Regions from separate parts of the Homo sapiens genome. Here region 2 is linked to region 1. The links come from fine-mapping of genetic effects on gene expression. A gene starts in region 1. The other region holds a variant in brackets. All regions are shown on one strand. Distances are between the middles of the regions.

Region 1 (10,268 bases):
CCAAGATCGCGCCATTGTACTCCGACCTGGGCAACAAGAGCGAAACTCCGTCTTAAAAAAAAAAAAAGACAGAACATGAAGAGCCAACTCTAACTTGACAAGTTGAAAGAGAATAGTGTAAGGAAAATTTCTGGTTCCACTTAGATCTGGTCTATTTGTCTCAAATTTATCAAAAACACTAACCTGAGATTTTTTTTCCTGATAACAGAAATCTACTGCCTCATTTCATTTCCCAATTTGATTTTTATTATTTTTATGTTTTTGAGACATTCTCGCTCTGTTACCCTGGCTGGAGTGCAGAGGCACGATCTCGGCTCACTGCAACCTCTGCGTCCCCGGTTCAAGCAATTCTCCCTGCCTCAGCCTCCTGAGTAGCTGGGATTACAGGCCCCTGCCACCAGGCTCAGCTAATTTTTGTATTTTTCTGTATAGACAAGGTTTCACCACATTGTCCAGGCTGGTTTTGAACTCCTGACCCAGGCGATCCACCCGCCTCGGCCTCCCAAAGTGCTGGGATTACAAGTGTGAGCCACCACACCTGGACTCATTTCCTAACTTGAAAGCAAGATTATACTGTACTGCATCCATGTGGGTCTTACAAAATACATGCACAACATTTTTCAAATATTTTGGTAAGCTTCCTTCCTCAAACTATAATTCTGGTGATCAAGCATCAACAAGGAAAATAATATTAACCTTTCACTTTGAGTAATTTGCTTCACCTACCACAAACAATATCCTTTATACTCTTCCAAATTGAAATATCACTCAATGGGCGAACTCCATTGTAAAGAAAATTTAAATGACCAGTAAACTGGAAAATACTAAGCACACAAAATCTTGCTTTAGCCATTTTCAAACTCCCAAATTCTAACACTAGGGTCATCTAATAAAGATACTATGCCTTCGGCCGGTCACAGTAGCTAACACCTGTAATCCCAGCACTTTGGGAGGCCTAGGTGAGAGGATCGCTTGAGTTCAGGAGTTTGAGACCAGCCTGGGCAACCTGGTGAGAACTTGTCTCCACTAAAAATAAAAATAGCCAAGTAAGTTGGCGAGTGCTTGTAGGCCCAACTACTTTGGAGATTGAGGTGGGAAGATCACTTGAGCCCAGAAGATGAAGGCTTTAGTGAACTATAAGCATGCTATTGCACTCCAGCCTGAGCAACAGGGGAAGACCTTTGTCTTAACAACAAACAAACAAAAAAACAAAACAAAACAAAACAAAAAAACAGGGCCGGGTGCGGAGGCTCACATATGTAATCCCAGCACTCTGGGAGGCCGAGGAGACCGAGGTGGGCAGATCACTTGAGGTAAGATGTTGAGACCAACATGGCCAACATTGTGAAACCCCATTTCTACTAAAAATACAAAAATTAGCAGGCACACTGATGGGTGCCTGTAATCCCAGCTACTCGGGAGGCTGAGGCACGAGAATCGCTTGAATCCAGCAGCGAGGTTGCAGCAGTGAGCCAAGATTACGCCACTGCACTCCAGCCTAGGAAAGAGTGAGGCAGTCTCAAAAACAAAACAAAACAAAACAAACAAACAAACAAAAAGAAAGGCCGGGCGCAGTGGCTCATGCCTGCAATCCCAGCACTTTGGGAGGCCGAGGCGGCGGATCACCTGAGGTCGGGAATTCGAGACCAGCCTGACCAACATGGAGAAATCCCGCATCTACTAAAAATACAAAATTAGCCAGGTGTGGTGGCGCATGCCTGTAATCCCAGCTACTCAGGAGGCTGAGGCAGGAGAATCGCTTGAACTCGGGAGGCGGAGGTTGCAGTGAGCCGAGATGGAGCCACTGCACTCCAGCCTGGGCAACAAGAGCGAAAGTCCCTATCAAAAAAATAAATAAATAAAAGATACAATACCATGCCTTCCCAAGGAAATACTTCTTTTCTTCTGAGGTCGGTTTGACCTATACTAGTGACAAAATTTTTCATCATATTATTGCCTAGAATGGAAACTAAAGAGGTTGTCTAATACCCAAAGAAGTAATCTGACCAATGTCACATACCTAGTCACAGGCCAAACTAGTACCCAGTTCCCTCCTAACTACCAGGCCACTCCTTCACCACAGATAATGAAACAAGGTTACAATTAATTGATCAGAGAAAACTCAAGAGCATGCCCTGTAGTATTGTATCAGTACTAAATTTCCTAATTTGGATAACTGTGCTCTGGTTACATAAGAATGTCTTTGTGCTTAGAAAATCCACGTTGAGCCGGGCGCAGTGGCTCATGCCTGGAATCCCAGCACTTTGGGAGGCTGAGGCGGGTAGATCACGAGATCAGGAGTTCAAGACCAGCCTGACCAACATGGTGAAACCCTGCCTCTACTAAAGATACAAAAATTAGCCAGGCATGGTGGCATGCACCTGTAATCCCAGCTACTCAGGAGGCTGAGGCAGGAGAATCGCTTGAACCCAGGAGCCGGAGGTTGCAGTGAGCCAAGATCACGCCACTGCACTCCAGCCTGGGCGACTGAGCGAGACTCCATCTCAAAAAAGAAAGAAAATCCATGTTGAAGTGTTTAGGGATAAAGGGGCTTGATACCTCCAACTCTAAAGGTGGGGGGAGGCACACAGTACATATAAATATTTACCTACAGTCATGAAGCAAATGCAGAAAATGTAACCAGTTATTGAATCATATGGGAGTTCTTTGAAACACTGTAACTTTGTTAGTTTCTAATTATGTAAAAATGCTACGAGTAAATAAACTGCCTTATGTCACAAAACTAGCATTTTACTTTTAACAAGACAGGATTTGGCCAGGCACAGCAGCTCATGCCTATAATCCTAGCACTTTGGAAGGCCAAGGCGGGTGGATCACTTGAGGTCAGGAGTTCAAGACCAGTCTGGTCAACATGGTGAAACCCCATCTCTACTAAAAATACAAAAGTTAGGGTATGGTGGCAGGCGCCTGTAATCCCAGCTATTTGTGAGGGTGAGGCAGGAGAATCGCTTGAACCCGGGAGGCAGAGGTTGCAGTGAGCCAAGATCGCGCCACTACACTCCAGCCTGGGCGACGGAGAGAGACTCCGTCCCCCACCCGAAAAAAAAAAACAAAAAAAAGAAAGACAGGACTTCATGTCAAGGTCATCCTTCCCAAATCAAAATTACGCCAAATTTGGGGACAAACTGCAAAGAAATGCTATAACAACCTTCATTTCCTTTAAATGAGGATATACATCTCCACCCTCAGGTTCTGGGAAGAGGTTCTAATCTGTGCATAAGCACTATACATTTCATGCAAGCCAGCTTCAAATTACTCCTCCAGGACCCCACAATGCTGACCCTACTACCACACCTTTAAATGTTACTTCGTCTTCTAAACTGATTCAAGTGACCAGACCAGGACAGAAATCCATCTACTCAATGAGTAACACTGACTCAAATAACTATTTGTCCAGCTAACAATTCCCTCTTCCTTAAGACCACCACTGCAGACCACTCTGCCACAAACTGCAGGCAGATCCAGAGCCGGTTACATAATACTTTCTCACAGCCCCAGTGGGGAAAAAAACTGGGGGGATACCATTATAGCTCAGTCCAAACTAGCATTACTTCAGATAATCAAATTCACAAATGAAGAGATATGTTCCAAAAGAAGGACACCAGTCTAAAAAAAAAAAAAGGAAAAAGGAACAGCTGGAGAAGGTGGAGAAAAACCCAAGATCTCAAATAATAATAATAATAATAATAATAATAATAATAATATCTGTTACTAGGTGACAAAATCAAGTCTGAAAAAACCAGGGTCCACCGAATTAAACCAAACATCAGCAAGCCTTCTTGGGGAAGGTGGCTAAGGGTAAAACGAATTTAATCTAAACTAGTTTTTGGCTCCAAGGAGCTGCAAGTCCACAGGCGTGCGGTGAGGAGGGCTGACAAGGACCCCCAGGGAAAAAGGCAAAGTGCTGTGCTTAGATTTTGCGAAAAGATGCAGGTATGGTGGGTCTCCAGATGACTTGTGGCAACATAAAAGTTTCATGATCAGAATTGGAATTCAAAGTGGACCAAAAAGTGTAATAGAAAAAAAAAAGTATGAAAGGAAACCTGAAATTGTTCTACGATGCTTGCTTTGTTTTAACGGAAGCTCACATTCAGGTCAGGATGGGACGACCAAGTTCGTTTGTGTGTGGCAAAAAGGAAGTTTTAGATGTTGCTGAAAAGTTCACTTATGAACGTGGGCACCAAGTCTGAATGAGTAAGAGAAAGGCTAGGAGCAGGAAGAAAAAGCAAGGGGGCTCAAAGGGGCACAACAAATAAATCCTGACAGCTAAGAAGTGCAACCCACGCGGTCTGACGGCAGAAAGGCCGCGGGAAGCTGAGGGGCAGGGGATGGGCGGAGTGCCAGGGCGGAATCGAGGTCACAGTGGAGAGAGCACAAGAGAGAGCTGACGCTGCCGAAGGAGGCAGAAAAGCAGCCCCTGCAGTCCTGCGTCGAGGCCGGAGCAGACCAGCACCTTTGACAGCCTGAGGAGCTGAAAACGCTACCTGGTGGGCCCAGGGTGGGCGGACCGGGCGTTTAAAGGTCAAGGTCAAGGTGGGGTTTGGCAAGTGATGCATAGCGCTCAAAGGAGACCGAAGACATACAAATAATATTATAAAATTATGACTATCGTTATCTTTTTTTTTTAAGAAGAAAAAAATAAAAGGTCTCCTGGACGGCTGCGGGGTGGAGGCGGCCCTGGCAGGAACGCGTGCAAAATAGGCTGGGGGCTGAAGTCGGGACGGAGGGCAGGCCGAGGGACCTGTGCTGGGCCACCGGAGGGAGGCACTGAGACTCGGGCCCAGGGCCTCCGCCGCACTCACTTGCCCTCCTGGCAGTCATAGAGCACGATGGAGTCGTCGTCGCTACTCGAGATGACCGTCTCGCCGTTGGGGCTGAAATCGAAGCAGTTAATCTTGTCCGAGTTTTCGCGGAACACCTTAGCGACGCGGAAGCTCCGCAACACGCTGTCGGTCAGCTTCATGGCGGCGGCTGGGGAAGGCAGCGGCGGCGCAGGGCCGGGGCGGGGCCCGGCGGCGAGCGGGCGGGCTGCCGAGGGGCCAACCCAGGCGGGGCGGGCGCCGCGCCGGCGGCTAGCGGGAAGTCGGCCAACAGTTGGGCCGCCTCCTCCTCTTCTTCCTGCTTGGTCGAGGGTCTTCTGCCTGGACTGTGGAGCCTCGCCGACCGTTCGTCCTCACAGCCACCTCACGGACAACCGGCGCGTCGCCGGCTCATTGTGTCCGCCATTTTGGGGCGACAGGCAGAAGCTGAGGGCGAGGAGCCTCAGCCGCGGCGCACGCCGGGAAAGGGGGCGGGGCGGGAACGGCGGAGCAAGGCGGGGAGGCGGGGTGGTGACGTCAGCGCGGCCGCGGCGGAGTGTAGTGGCGGGGCGGGCTGCTGGCAGGGAGCGGCCGAGACGTGCAGGGCCTTCCCGGGGGATCGGAAGGTTGCGGATGCCTTGGGAGCCGGGGGCCCTTGCGCGGGATTGCAACCCCCGCGAAGACTCTGGCGCCTCCTGCAGGCGTCCCGATCGCAGGCTGCGTGGGAGGGGGTACTGCAGGGTCGGGTATGCTGCTGGAGGCCGGTTTTGGGGGTGACTCAGGTGAGCCGCTCGCAGGCAAGCTTGACCGCTAGTCCACCGCAGCGTCCGCTTAGACAGCTTCGACCTCTTTACTTTTTTTTTTTTTTTTGGAGATGGAGTCTCTCGCTCAGGCGCGCGCCACCACGCCCAGCTAATTTTGTATTTTTGGTAGAGACGGGGGTTCACCATGTTGGCCAGGCTGGTCTCGAACTCCTGACCTCACCCGCACCCGGCCTCGTTTTCTTAATCGAGGTAGACTTTAGGTACAGTAAAAATCAGCCTTTTTAGGCCGGGCGCGGTGGCTCACGCCTTTAAACCCACCACTTTGGGAGGCCGAGGCGGGATGATCGCTTGAGCTCAGGAGTTGAGACCAGCCTGGCCAACATGACAAAACCCCACCTCTACTAAAATACAAAAAATTAGCCGGGCATGATGGCGCGGCTGAGGCACGAGAATTGAGAAAGGCGGAGGCTGCAGTGCGCCGAAATCGTGCCACTGCATTCCAGGCTGGGCGACAGAGCAGACGGTTTCCCCCCAAAAATTAGCCTTTTTAGTGGCTAGTTTTATGTTCTGACACCCATACACAGTCATGCAGTCACCACCACATTCAAGATTTGGAAGAGTTGCACTATCCTGTTTGTAGTCAACAGGATTATTTTAAAGGTTCTATCATATAAGTGATTATTTGCCTTAAAAGAAAGTTTATCTCTAACAAAGGAAAGCAGTATTTGAACAGAAAATAGGAACCAAGCTTCCTAACCTTAACTTTCTGGGCAAGGGGTTAAACTCAATGCCAACCTATGTGGCTTCACAGATCTGTATCTTGTGTGAAGCTCCTCAAAAGGTTAATTGCCTGGGGTTTCCAACAATGAAGATGGGGATTATTTATTTTTGCTTTCTTTAGCTAAAGAGAAACAAAAACGAGGAAAGGCTGTGAGACATTTCAGTCGCTATTAGGAAGGTTATTATCCAGAGACCTGTGCAATGGTAAAAAACAAAATGGAAACCCTGGGACAGTTGGGGTCTTTCTAGAAAGAACTAGAGGCTGTATCCCAACCCCCTGGGTAAAAGGAGAGCCAGGATCCTTATACATAAAGAGAAGTTGTTCTCTAAGGGAAGAGGCAAGTTCCTGGCTAAGTCTGGGGTATAATTGCCTCCTGACAAAGAGCAGAGCTTCTGGCTACAATTTGTTCTGGGGTCTGGAAAAAGCCGGTTTGAGTGAAACCTGAATAGATGGCAACTTTCCAAACTGCACACAATGGAAGAAAAACCCTCCACGTCCCAGATCACTTGCTCTGCTTCCCTGTAATTCCTGTGCCTTTATTTCAGAAGCTAGAAAGTCTGATACAGCGTCTGCTTCGAATAGTTTAGAAGGCAACAAGGACAGATCGAGTACCATGTTCTAGAACTGTCGGGAAGTGAACACACCCAGTAAGATGATGCCATATTTTGGTCCATGTTAATCTACAAAAATAACCACAGAAACAGCTGTAATCTACTGAATGTTGCCAGCCAAAATAAATCTTTGCAGGGTATTTTTCAAGTATTGTACTTCCTATACCTTTTCCAGATTTCACCGTTAAGACCAAACCTTCCTCCCAAGACTTGACTTTCTGCATTATTTTTGGAATGCAGTCTTTTTTTTTTTCCCCCATTTTTAAGAGGGTCTTCAAATCCTCATCCTGTTTCGCATTCTTACTGTTTCCAATTCCTAGCCTGGCTCCCTGCCCTATTATAGTGGGGCTCTCCTGGCTTCCAGCCCAACAGTATGGTTGCCTTAAAGGATGGACTTTAGGCCAGGTGCGGTGGCACTTTGGGAGGCCGAGGTGGGTAGATCACAAGGTCGGGAGTTCAAAACCAGCCTGGCCAAAATGGTGAAACCCTGTCTCTATTAAAAATACAAAAATTAGCTGGGCACAGTGGCGGGCACCTGTAATCCCAGCTACTTGGGAGGCTGAGGCAGGAGAATCGCTTGAATCCGGGAGGCAGAGGTTGTAGTGAGCCGAGATCACACCACTGCACTGGGCATTAGAGCAAGACTCCGTCTCAAAAAAAAAAAAAAAATGGACTTTAAAAAGTGACACAGAAAGCCGGCTCCAGTGGATGGGTGGATGGAGAGAAAGCTGCAGTCAAGAGTGAATCAGATGGGCTTTAAAAGAGCATCAGACTTAATTTTTTATGTTTCCTTTTATTTGTAGTCATTCTTTTACTTGTCACATATTCATTGCAAAAAAACTAAAAAATACAAATAATAAAAACAGCATCCAGAGATAGCCACTGTTACAATCTTTTATTATAGTGAAATATATATAACACGAAATTTACCATTTTGATGTAGAACCTTTCCGATTTTTTCATATACATATATATATATATATATATTTTTTTTTTTTTTTTTTTTTTTTTTTTCCTGCTCTGTCACCCAGACTGGAGTGCAGTGGCGTGCTCTCAGCTCACTGTAACCTCCATGTCCTGGGTTCAAGTGATTCTCCTGCCTCAGCCTCCTATAGATGCCCGCCACCACGCCCAGCTAATTTTGTATTTTTAGTACAGACGAGGTTTTATCATGTTGGCCTGGCTGGTCTTGAACTGCTGACCTCAGGTGATCTGCCTGCCTCACCATCCCAAAGTGCTGGGATTACAGGCATGAGCCACCACACCCAGCCAATCCCTGAAATATATTTTTATTGGGTTCATAATATATTGTTTGTAAGTTTACCCATACTATGAACATATTCCAGGTCAATAAATATCGATACAATCATTTTGAATGGCTACAAACTATTCTATTATATGGCTGTAAAGTAATTTTGCTTCCCATTTTGTCCAGAGCCCAGCCAGAGCTCAGTATGGATTAATTGAATAAATGAATTTATCCAAAGGATTCCAGATACTTGATTGGCCCACTTATTAAATTTTTCTATTTCATGCTGCACAATTGGAATGGAAACTGTCCTAAACAATGTGTCCTCTTTCCAAAACACAGAGCTCCTTATGAATTCTAATTCTTTGAGATAAATTTCTGAGCTCCAGTGCCCAGCAGCAGGGCTTCCCTAGAGATTGACTAACGTCTTACTCAACCCTTGGAATAACTAGAATCAGGTGACTCTCTTCTTTGGGACAGTTGCATGTGTGTAAGTGTGACAGTGTGTGTGTGTATCAGTGCTTACACAGCCCTCGGAATAACTAGAATCAGGTGACTCTCTTCTTTGGGACAGTTGAGTGTGTGTGTGTGTGAGCTTAATTGCCAAAGAGGAAACGCAGAACACTAGAACACAAAATGCCTGGTGAGGTGTCTGAGCCCCAGCACCAGGAAGTGGTCGCCTCACAGGTTGGCAAAAAATTTACTGACAACAGTATAGGTTTGAAAAAGGAAAATTTCTTAGAAAGAAAGAACGCTGCAGAAGAGTGCAGCGGGGCACCCCAGCGAGAGGACTGAGGGCCTTGGTGGATTTTCCTTAGGTGCATTTATGGACCTTCAGGCAGGAGCTTAGGGTTGTAAAATTAGTTTCAGCATGACATTCCAGAGATGCCTAGAAATTTTAGTTACTTATAAAAGTTGAAAGAGGCCTGGAACCAGATGCCCACTTTAGATACTAGGGAAGTTTAATTACTTCTAATTTCCCCAGATAAGGAGTTTTGCCTCTGGATGGCCTGTTGGATGGTTACCAGGTGGTCTTTGCTCCCTTCTAAATTCCTCAGATAAGGGCCAGGCACAGTGGCTCATGCCTGTAATCCCAGCACTCTGGGAGGCCAAGGTGGGTGAATCACTTGAGGTCAGGAGTTCAAGACCAGCTTGGGCAGCATGGTGAAACTGCGACTCCACCAAAAAATACAAAAATTAGCCAAGCATGGTGGTGTGCGCCTGTAGTCCCAGCTACTCGGGAGGCTGAGGCAGGAGAATTGCTTGAACCCGGGAGGCGGAGGTTGCAGAGCCGAGATCGCACTCCAGCCTGGGCGATAGAGTGAAACTCTGTCTCAAAAAAAAAAGAAAGAAAAAAAATAAATATTACAAGGATGAAGTAAGCCATTTTTATTTAGACAGAATTTAAGTGTGTGCATGGAAAATCTTGTGGGATATACATGAATATGACCAGAAATAATAAATAAATTTAGTTACTAATGTATGTCCACTTCTACTGGAATTCCTCAGAGAGGTCTTGAGACTCCAGGACCGGGGGCCTGGATAAAAAGAAAGTATCTTTCCCTGGCAGCAGGACTAACTACCCAATTTGTAGGGCCCCTTGTTAAAAAATTGCTAAGAATCTCAAGATGACAACAACAGAATATTAAATGAAGTGCAGGGTCCTTCTGACTATACAAGTCACACACCCATGAAGCTGGCTCAACCCAGGACTAGTACAGCAACAACACTGAGCCTTTCTACATGCACTGGAAACATACTGTGATGAAGACTCTGAAGTTCTGAGAGGTTAACTTTCTCAGGGTCACTTAACCAATAAGCACTGAAGTCTGGATTCACACTCTGCTTCAGCACTGGAAAGCTTGTGTTCTGTTTCCAGGGCAAAGGACAAGAAATCATTCACATTTAACAAAGACCACTGTCGGTAAATAATACCTTCTTAGTCTGGAAGGAAAGGATGGAATCTTCCCAGATAAGCCTTGACTGCTCAGAGCCAGAAGGAACTGCCTAGAGTCTCAGGGCCAAGGCCACTGTCTCTAAAAC
Region 2 (8,179 bases), 23 kb before region 1:
TTTTTATTTTTTGTAGAGACAGGGTCTGTGTTGCCCAGACTGGCTCAAACTCCTGGATGCAAGTGATAATCCCACCTCAGCCTCTCTGGGATTACAGGCGTGAGCCACCATGCCCAGCCTCCACTACTTGTAGGCTCTGGGCTTGAGATACTGGAAGGGTGGTTTTTTCACTTAAAAAAAAAAATGTAAGGCCAGGCATGGTGGCTCAGACCTGTAATCCCAGCACTTTGGGAGGCCGAAGCAGGCCGATCATGAGGTCAGTTCGAGACCAGCCTGGCCAATATGGTGAAACCCTGTCTCTACTAAAAATACAAAAATTAGCCGGGCATGGTCGCACGTGCCTGTAGTACCAGCTGCCCAGGAGGCTGAGGCAGAATAATCGTTTGAACCTGGGAGGTGGAGGTTGCAGTGAGCTGAGATTGTGCCACTGCGTTCCAGCCTGGGCAACAGAGCGAGACTCCATCTCAAAAAACTAAAAATAAAAAGTAATGAGACAGGGTCTATTTTGCCCAGGATAGTCTCAAACTGCTGGGTTCAAGCAGTCCTCCCAGCCTGTAGCTGGAATTACAGATGTACACTGTGACTTTTTCACTTACTTTTGAATGCAGATTTCTATAAAGCTATAATTAGCTGGATAAAAGTTAGGGCCTTAGGGCTTGCTGTTTAATAAGCAGCTTAGTTCATCTTCTCCAAAAAGACTATGCTGTCATCTTGGCTGGGGCACAGTGGCTCATGCCTGTAATCCCAGGACTTTGGGAGGCTGAAGCAGGTAGATCACTTGAGCTCGGGAGTTTGAGACCATCCTGAACAACATGGTGAAACCCCATCTCTATCAAAAATACAAAAAATTAGTAGGGCATGGTGATATATGCCTGTGGTCCCAGCTACTTGGAAGGCTGAGGTGGGAGGATCACCTGAACCCAGGAGGTGGAGGTTGCAGTGAGGGGAGATTGTGCCACTCCACTCCAGCCTGGACAACACAGTGAGACTCTGTCTCAAAACAAAACAAAACAAACAAAAAAATGGGGCCAGGCCTGGTGGCTCAGGTGTGTCATCCAGCACTTTGGGAGGCTGAGCAGGCAGATCACCTGAGGTCCGGAGTTTGAGACCAGCCTGACCAACATGTTGAAACCCTGTCTCTACTAAAAATACAAAATTAGCCAGGTGTGGTGGCACATGCCTGTAATCCCAGCTACTCGGGAGGCTGAGGCAGGAGAATCGCTTGAACCCGGGAGGCGGAGGTTGCAGTGAGCCAAGATCGCACCGTTGTACTCCAGCCTGGGCAATAAGAGCAAAACTGTCTCAAAAACAAAACAAAACAAAAACAGCCATGCTGTCAACTAGAACGTACCAAAGCTCAAGTGCTCAGGAAGTATCTATTGAATTACAAGGCAAACCACCTTCATGACCTCAGCTTTACTTGACCCTTCTCTGATTTACTCCTACTTTATAATTTAGGTGAATTCTCTCACCAGGCAACTGACAGCCCAAAATTGCAGCCAAGAAGAATATCCAACAGGTCGCAGAGCCAATGGTAAAACCTGTATAATTAACTCAACTGAGAGGCTCTCAGAACCCACCCCACCCCGGCTTTTTTTTTTTTTTTTTTGAGATGGAGCTTCACTCTTGTCGCCCAGGCTGGAGTGTAATGGTGCCATCTCAGCTCACTGCAACCTCTAGCCTCCTGGGTTCAAGTGATTCTCCTGCCTCAGCCTCCTGAACAGTTGGAATTACAGGCACACACCACCACACCCAATATTTTTAGTAGAGATGGGGTTTCATCATGTTGGCCAGCCTGGTCTCAAACTCCTGACCTCAGGTGATCCACCCACCTCGGTCTCCCAAAGTGCTGGGATTACAGGCGTGAGCCACTGCACCCAGCCTCAGACCCCCTTTCCTACCCATTAACTCTAGATTTCATTTCCTACACATTCTCCAGGGAAGACTGGAAAAACTGCATCAGATATTTCCCACTGCTATATTCCACAGTGCAGGACTTCAGGGTTGAACCTGTCCACAGCTAGGCCCTATGGTAGTCTTGCTAGGACTCCTCTAGCCAGGCAGCTTGAGTGCTGTCCTACCAGCCTGTAGGAGTGTCACTTCCTCTTTCCTCACCACAGCCTCCACTACCTCACCACTCCGCCTGAGCAAAAAAAAAAAAAAGGGTGGGCAGCATCCTGTGCCTGCTTCTCTTACCCACATCAACTGCTGAGCCAGCTCGCCCCCACAGCCTGCTTGCCTAGCTTGCTACCATGCCTGCTGTTGTTCCTCACGTCACAAGGCTGAATGAAGCCTGGGGGGTGGGTGAAGTAGGTCTTTCAGTTGCGAGCAGGACAGAGACCAGAGTGGCTGCTCTAAGGGCAGCCATGCTTACCTACTTGTTCATGTCTCCCAGCAGAGCTGAACACGGCAGCAGTCCTCCCACCAGGCCAGGAGGGGGTCTCTTCCTACGTACGTAGTGTCAGAAGAGCCTGTGCATGGCCTGTCACACACAAGCTAGGATGTTCCCTCCGCCACTGTTGCAGAGTCCCATGAGCAATGTGAAAATGTGGCAGGCCCAAGGTTTTCTTCTCTGGTCCAGAGAGGGCGAGGCAAGAGCAGGAAGCAGGTTCTACAGCTCTGAGAATGCTGAGCTAGAGCAGCAGCCTCCAGGCAAATGGGTTACCAAAGCAATTGCCTTCTGCCAGACTGGGTGCTGGGGCCTCAGAGAGACTCCAGTATTCTTGCCTTCCTGAAACCAGGGTCTAGCAGGACAAAACATATTCCAACTAGAGGTTGTCAATCTGGTGAAGGGTTGAGTAAACAGTAGAGGATGCAAGGCAGCCTGAGGTAAGTGCCAGACAGTCTCCGAAGATTCAGGCTGGCTCAGGCTTGCCTTGCCCCGTCAGTCATTGCTGGCTCTATGGCTATTACAGCCTGGGGTTGAAGGCTGGTTCTAGGGGTTCCTCCCACCAGCCCATAAATCTTAGTTACCAAGGGGCAGTCAGAGGCAGTCCCAGGGAGCCCAGCAATCCGTCTACACAGCATTACAGCAAGCTGCAGTGTGAGCCAGAACTAACAGGAGACAACCCAAGCCTCCCTCCAGCTCTGGGAACCAGGCAAACCATGCTACAGAAACTCAAATCGAAGAGGCTGCAGCCATAAAATTCTGTTTAAGACTGTAACATGGAAAAAATGTTTATACGTTAAGTACAAAAGGGACATAAAATTGTATATACAGAATAACGACTATGTAAACACACCAAAAATCTATGCACAGAAATGTCTAGGGGGAACATTTAACACCAAAAGATTAACAGTGGTAGCATTTGGGTGGCAAACTTGATTCTTTCTAAAATTCCCATATTTTCCTTAATAAGCAGTAATTATAATTACAACGGGAAATAATTTCTTTAAGTACCCAGTGCAGTGTCACTGTCAAATAAACATCAGTGGCTTTGGCCCCAATTCTTAAGGTGGCAAACGCCGCTGCCCCACTCCCCACCCATCCCCAATAGGGCTTGAGCACCTGTAGCCCTGCTGAGCACGTCTGTGCAGCCCCAGCCCTCAGCATCTCTTCCACTCGCTTCCAGCTATATCTTTTCCCTTTCCTTCTTAATTCAGGAGGCAGCTTTGCAACCACAGGGCCCAACGATAGAGACTGTGAGGTGGCATTTTTTTTTTTTTTTTTTTGAGACGGAGTTTTGCTGTTGTTGCCCAGGCCGGAGTGCAATGGCACGATCTCAACTCACCGCAACCTCCGCCTCCTGGGTTCAAGCAATTCTCCTGCCTCAGCCTCCCAAGTAGCTGAGATTATAGGCGCATGCCACCACGCCCGGCTAATTTTGTATTTTTAGTAGAGATGGGGTTTCTCCATGTTGGTCAGGCTGGTCTCAAACTCCCGACCTCCGGTGATCCGCCCGCCTCGGCCTCCCAAAGTGCTGGGATTACAGGTGTGAGCCACCGCGCCCAGCCTTGAGGTGGCATGTTTTCAAAGAACATGGTGCTCAGTTTTGGACACACAGGAACTCAAATACAATCATTTTCC[T/C]GCTGCTAAGTAATGCTTGGTGGCTGCTCTGGTTGCAGATATGTGAAGTTAGGTAGCCTTTCCTGTTAACCCATGGTTCCAAGCACTCTCTCTTAACAATCATTCCTACTGTGAATTTTCTACCCGGAAAAGCCAGGGGTGGGCAATAACAATTAAGATCATTTGGTTTCTAAAAGTTCTTCCTCTCTGGGAAAGCAGAACTATACAGTGGGTGGCATCCTGCAGATTCTAGTCTACATTTGGGAAAGGTGTACGCCTCTTGCACTTTCAGAGGAACAAGTCAAAAAGTAATTGCTTAAAAAAAAAAAGTGCTAGCAATTCACAGCCTATTCCTGCCCGCTGAACAGAAATTGTGATGCCTTGATTTACCCCCTAGCAGCTACATATTCTTGAGCAAGTCATAACCCTATTGTGCCTCAGTTTCTGGATCTGCAAGGAGTGTTGCCTGCATAAATGTTTGTTTAGGAACTTAGTAAAATGACATACTCCTCTCTCTGCTCTAAGAAGGCCATGAGCCAGCTGCAGCTCATCTCACTCAGCCTGGGCCTGACCAGAGTCCTTTCCTCTTCCAAGAGAAAGCAAGGAAAAGCAGCAAGCAAGCAGACATACCAGGTCAACAGGAGTGATCTATCATTGGCAACGAGGCCTCAAACAAACTGCAAATGCTCTGGCTTCAGCACCTTATCCCCAAATGCCACAAACCAGACATGGAAGCCATGCAAGAGTGACTATCACACACACACACAGGCACAGACAGAGTACCACCAAGCAAAAAGGGGGCTAATACTGCAGAGATGGCCCCAAAGTGCAGCTTGAGGAACACAGCAAGTCATCCCAAGACCCTCACTTAGCTGCCAAAGAAACAGCAAACACTATCAGCTTTGCTTCAGTCTTCTGAAATGAAAATATTAATAAGGAAGACTCACTAATACTTGTGGCAAACACTATTAGCAGGGATGCAGGGTGTCTCCTGGGCTGCAGGACTCCATCTGCTTCAGCTGAACTCTTGGAAACTACAGATGAGAGATATATGCATACGCACACACATATATGCGTATCTGTATGCACACAGATGTATTTAAATGAAGGTGCATACACTGTGCTAAAATACAAACAACAGAAATCAAAGGTCATATATAAAAACGCTAAATATGACATATAACACAGGCCTAGAACCAGCTCTTGGTTGGGAGCTGGGGAAAGGGGTGGTATCATCTGAAGACTATGTACACAATTTGTGGTGGGCAGGGAAGGCATCAGTGTAAACAACTCAGACTCACTTCACAATACTGGCCCACAGGTAAGTGTGATGTATCTCATGTACAAAAATAGACTCCCACCTTGCTTTTGTACAAACCAAGCTTGGTAGGCACCCAGGAGGACCGTGGGTTTGTCTTGATGACAGGGCACTGCACCAGGCTGCTGCTAAACCTTCCAGCCCTAGGAACTCACCTGCTACCCTCCCGCTACCCTCCCCTTTCCCTCCCTTTCAGGCCCTTGGGTCTTTTTCCCACCCAACACCTACAGCCCGAGGCCTGCCCAACCACCTAGCCTCACACGACTAACTGCAGAAACTAACTGCATGGCTTCCTGCAAGCAAGGTCCTTCTGTATCTGTCCCTTTCTCTGACCCCAAGATATATGAAAATGTTTCTGTAAATGTTTGGCACCTAAGAAACATGATGGTTGTGGATAATGCCACAAGTACACAGGGAGACCCAGTAACAAGACATGCAGGGTGAGGGCAAGCGGCTGAGCTGCCCAAGCATTTCAAAACCAGGACTTTGGCTTCCCATGCAGTTGGAGGGTAGAAGGGATGTGCGGAACTGATGACTTCACCGGCTCCTCAGCAGCATGTACATTCAAATTGAAGATGCTTGAGAGCCCCACTATACCAAATCGTGAGTCTGGTCACTCCTCCAGCAGAGCTTGGTGCAGTGACAGTTAGAAAAGCTGAGTTCCAATTGAGTCTGTTGCACCAAGAGTCCTTTTGAAGACGCTCATCAAAGTAATTATTTTCTTTTGAGCAGATGTACAGCACATCCATGGGAAGGCCATGTAAAAGGATGTTCTCCAGCCCAGTCAAATGATCCAATCCCACTATTATCTCAGTTCCCTCTGAGTTTCTTCCTGCTGGCCGCCCTCACTATACAGAAATAGCCAAGCAGCAACAGGGTCAGTCATCAATGGTGGGCAACCAAAAGGCCTAGAAGGAGAACATAAATCAACTTTAAAAAGCCAAGCATCTCCTCACTGCCAACGGTTCTTCACATCCCACCCCACAGCAAAAATGTGCCCAACCCCAGTGGCTCTGGTAGCCCTCTCTCCTAACCAACCAACCCCGATGCTCTAAGGAGACAGAAACACTCTTTCCTCTATGTGAAAGTAAAATGGTTCTGTTTTTCTCCAATAATCACTGTCCACCTTCCACCAAAGCAGACCCCCCGCCCCCTTTTTTTTAAAGGAAGGGAAAAAAAGGAGTGCTGCCTGGGAGGTGGGTGAATAAGTAACCTGTCCTCATTGCTAATCCACCAGGTTACCTCCAACAGGCCCCCACCTTCCTGGGCTGTAAAAAGTAAGGAACTGGATGGTTTTGCTGTATTTTTTCTAACATTTTTTTCTTGGTTAAAAAAAAAAAGCAAGGTGGCAATGTGCTCCGGGTAGGCTAGTAATGAAATGTCTCATCCCCGAATACCCAGGCAGGTTTAGGAGATCACAAGGGAAAACTGGAGCTGAGACTCACTGATCCTTTGTTCTGTTAGTATTATCTAGGAAGAGATAAGGGCCTGGAGTTAATTCTAAGTGGTGAGTTATGACCAACTGTAGAAATTTCTGGGAATTTGGCGTAAACCAACAGGAATGGAAAACTGAAACCACAAAAGGCCGGTTCAGAGTATTTTAAGGAGCAAAAAAATTGCCAAGCATAGCCCAGGTAGTTTGGACCTAAAATTAGGGTCCAGAGCAAAAACTGGCCTATGATCTCCTTGGAACTCAAAGATGATTCCTGATCACCTCTAGGAAGAATAAAAATGAAAGGCAAGACCAGCCCAGCCAGAGATCAAATAATAGGAGATGAAATAGGGAAACCACCAGTTGAGAAACATGTACTTGGATGCTTGTAATGTACCTATGTAGAACACAGCTTGCTGTGCTTGTTGAGGCACCCACCACCCCAACTGGGAAGGGTCCCTGAGTAGCAGATACCTCTTACTGTTCACATACCATGTTGGAACACGCACTGGCAAAAGTCATGAACTTGGGGTTGAATTGCAAACAGGTAATCGGGCCTGTGTGTTTACCATCCAACACAGCTACTTTTATACCGCTCTCTCCATTCCAGACATGGATCTTGCCATCCTCTGAACCTAAAGAGGATATTCACGGAAAATGTAACAGCTCAAGGCGCAATACAAAGACAACTGGAAATGAGACATGGATTGAGATCTGAGGATACGCCAAGCTTTAGGACCCATCCCTCAGGCAAAATTGAGAGGGAGGAGAGGCAGTGAAGGAAGGACACTTTGGAAATTTATCTTGACCCTAGCTATTTGTTCACAGGCATGTCACTTCCGTTCTAACTTCAGTTTTCTCATCTAAAAAAGGGGCCGAATACCATTACCCTACCAACAGGCAGCCACTAAGATGACTGAATGTAGGGTTACACCAGGACATTAGCATTACTAATAAGGTAGTGCTTGTGGAGTTTAACTCAAATTTTGGTCCAGTCAGGGCAGTTAAAAGACACTATGTCCTTGGCATAATGTGCTATACAGAAATCTAAGAACATCTATCAAATAGATAATAATGTCTCAGTTAATAATTTAAACAAAGAAATGCATAGTACCAGAGAAATAACCCCCACAGGGGATAAAAGGAAACTCACCAATCATAATAAACTGAGAGTCTGGAGTAAATGAAGCCTCCAGTGTGACAGCTTTGCTGTTGGCATAACCCTAAAACAAAACAGAGCAGTTCTTTTGTTCTTACAGAGCCATTAATAAAAACAGCTGCCTACAAACACTGACTCAGCACATGCATCACCTTCCTTTCCATGAAACCCTTTCCTTGTCATGTACTACACCACCAAGCTTCCAAATGTGGTTGCCATCGTTGACAATCCACTCCCACCCTCAACTCTGTATTCAAGGCATAC

Evidence for each region.
Region 2: its variant is fine-mapped to the expression of WDR82 in whole blood (TOPMed, PIP above 0.99).

What each region holds. Positions count from the first base shown.
Region 1 is chr3:52,273,378-52,283,645 of GRCh38, forward strand. It overlaps WDR82 (WD repeat domain 82), which reads right to left and starts at 5,272. Exons shown (of 9, transcript NM_025222.4): 1 at 4,824-5,272. The coding sequence starts at 4,984. It overlaps LOC107986086 (a long non-coding RNA gene), which reads right to left. Exons shown (of 3, transcript XR_001740699.2): 3 at 8,941-9,554. RefSeq lists enhancers at 3,999-4,631, 4,135-4,184, 4,205-4,284, 4,695-4,794, 5,264-5,895 and silencers at 4,985-5,064, 5,245-5,534.
Region 2 is chr3:52,251,288-52,259,466 of GRCh38, forward strand. It overlaps WDR82 (WD repeat domain 82), which reads right to left. Exons shown (of 9, transcript NM_025222.4): 7 at 7,910-7,979; 8 at 7,249-7,391; 9 at 3,147-6,232. The coding sequence ends at 6,203. Among named protein-coding and RNA genes, the nearest start is that of PPM1M, 9.6 kb to the left of the region's middle. RefSeq lists an enhancer at 2,144-2,463. The variant T/C (reference allele first, on the strand shown) is at 4,028.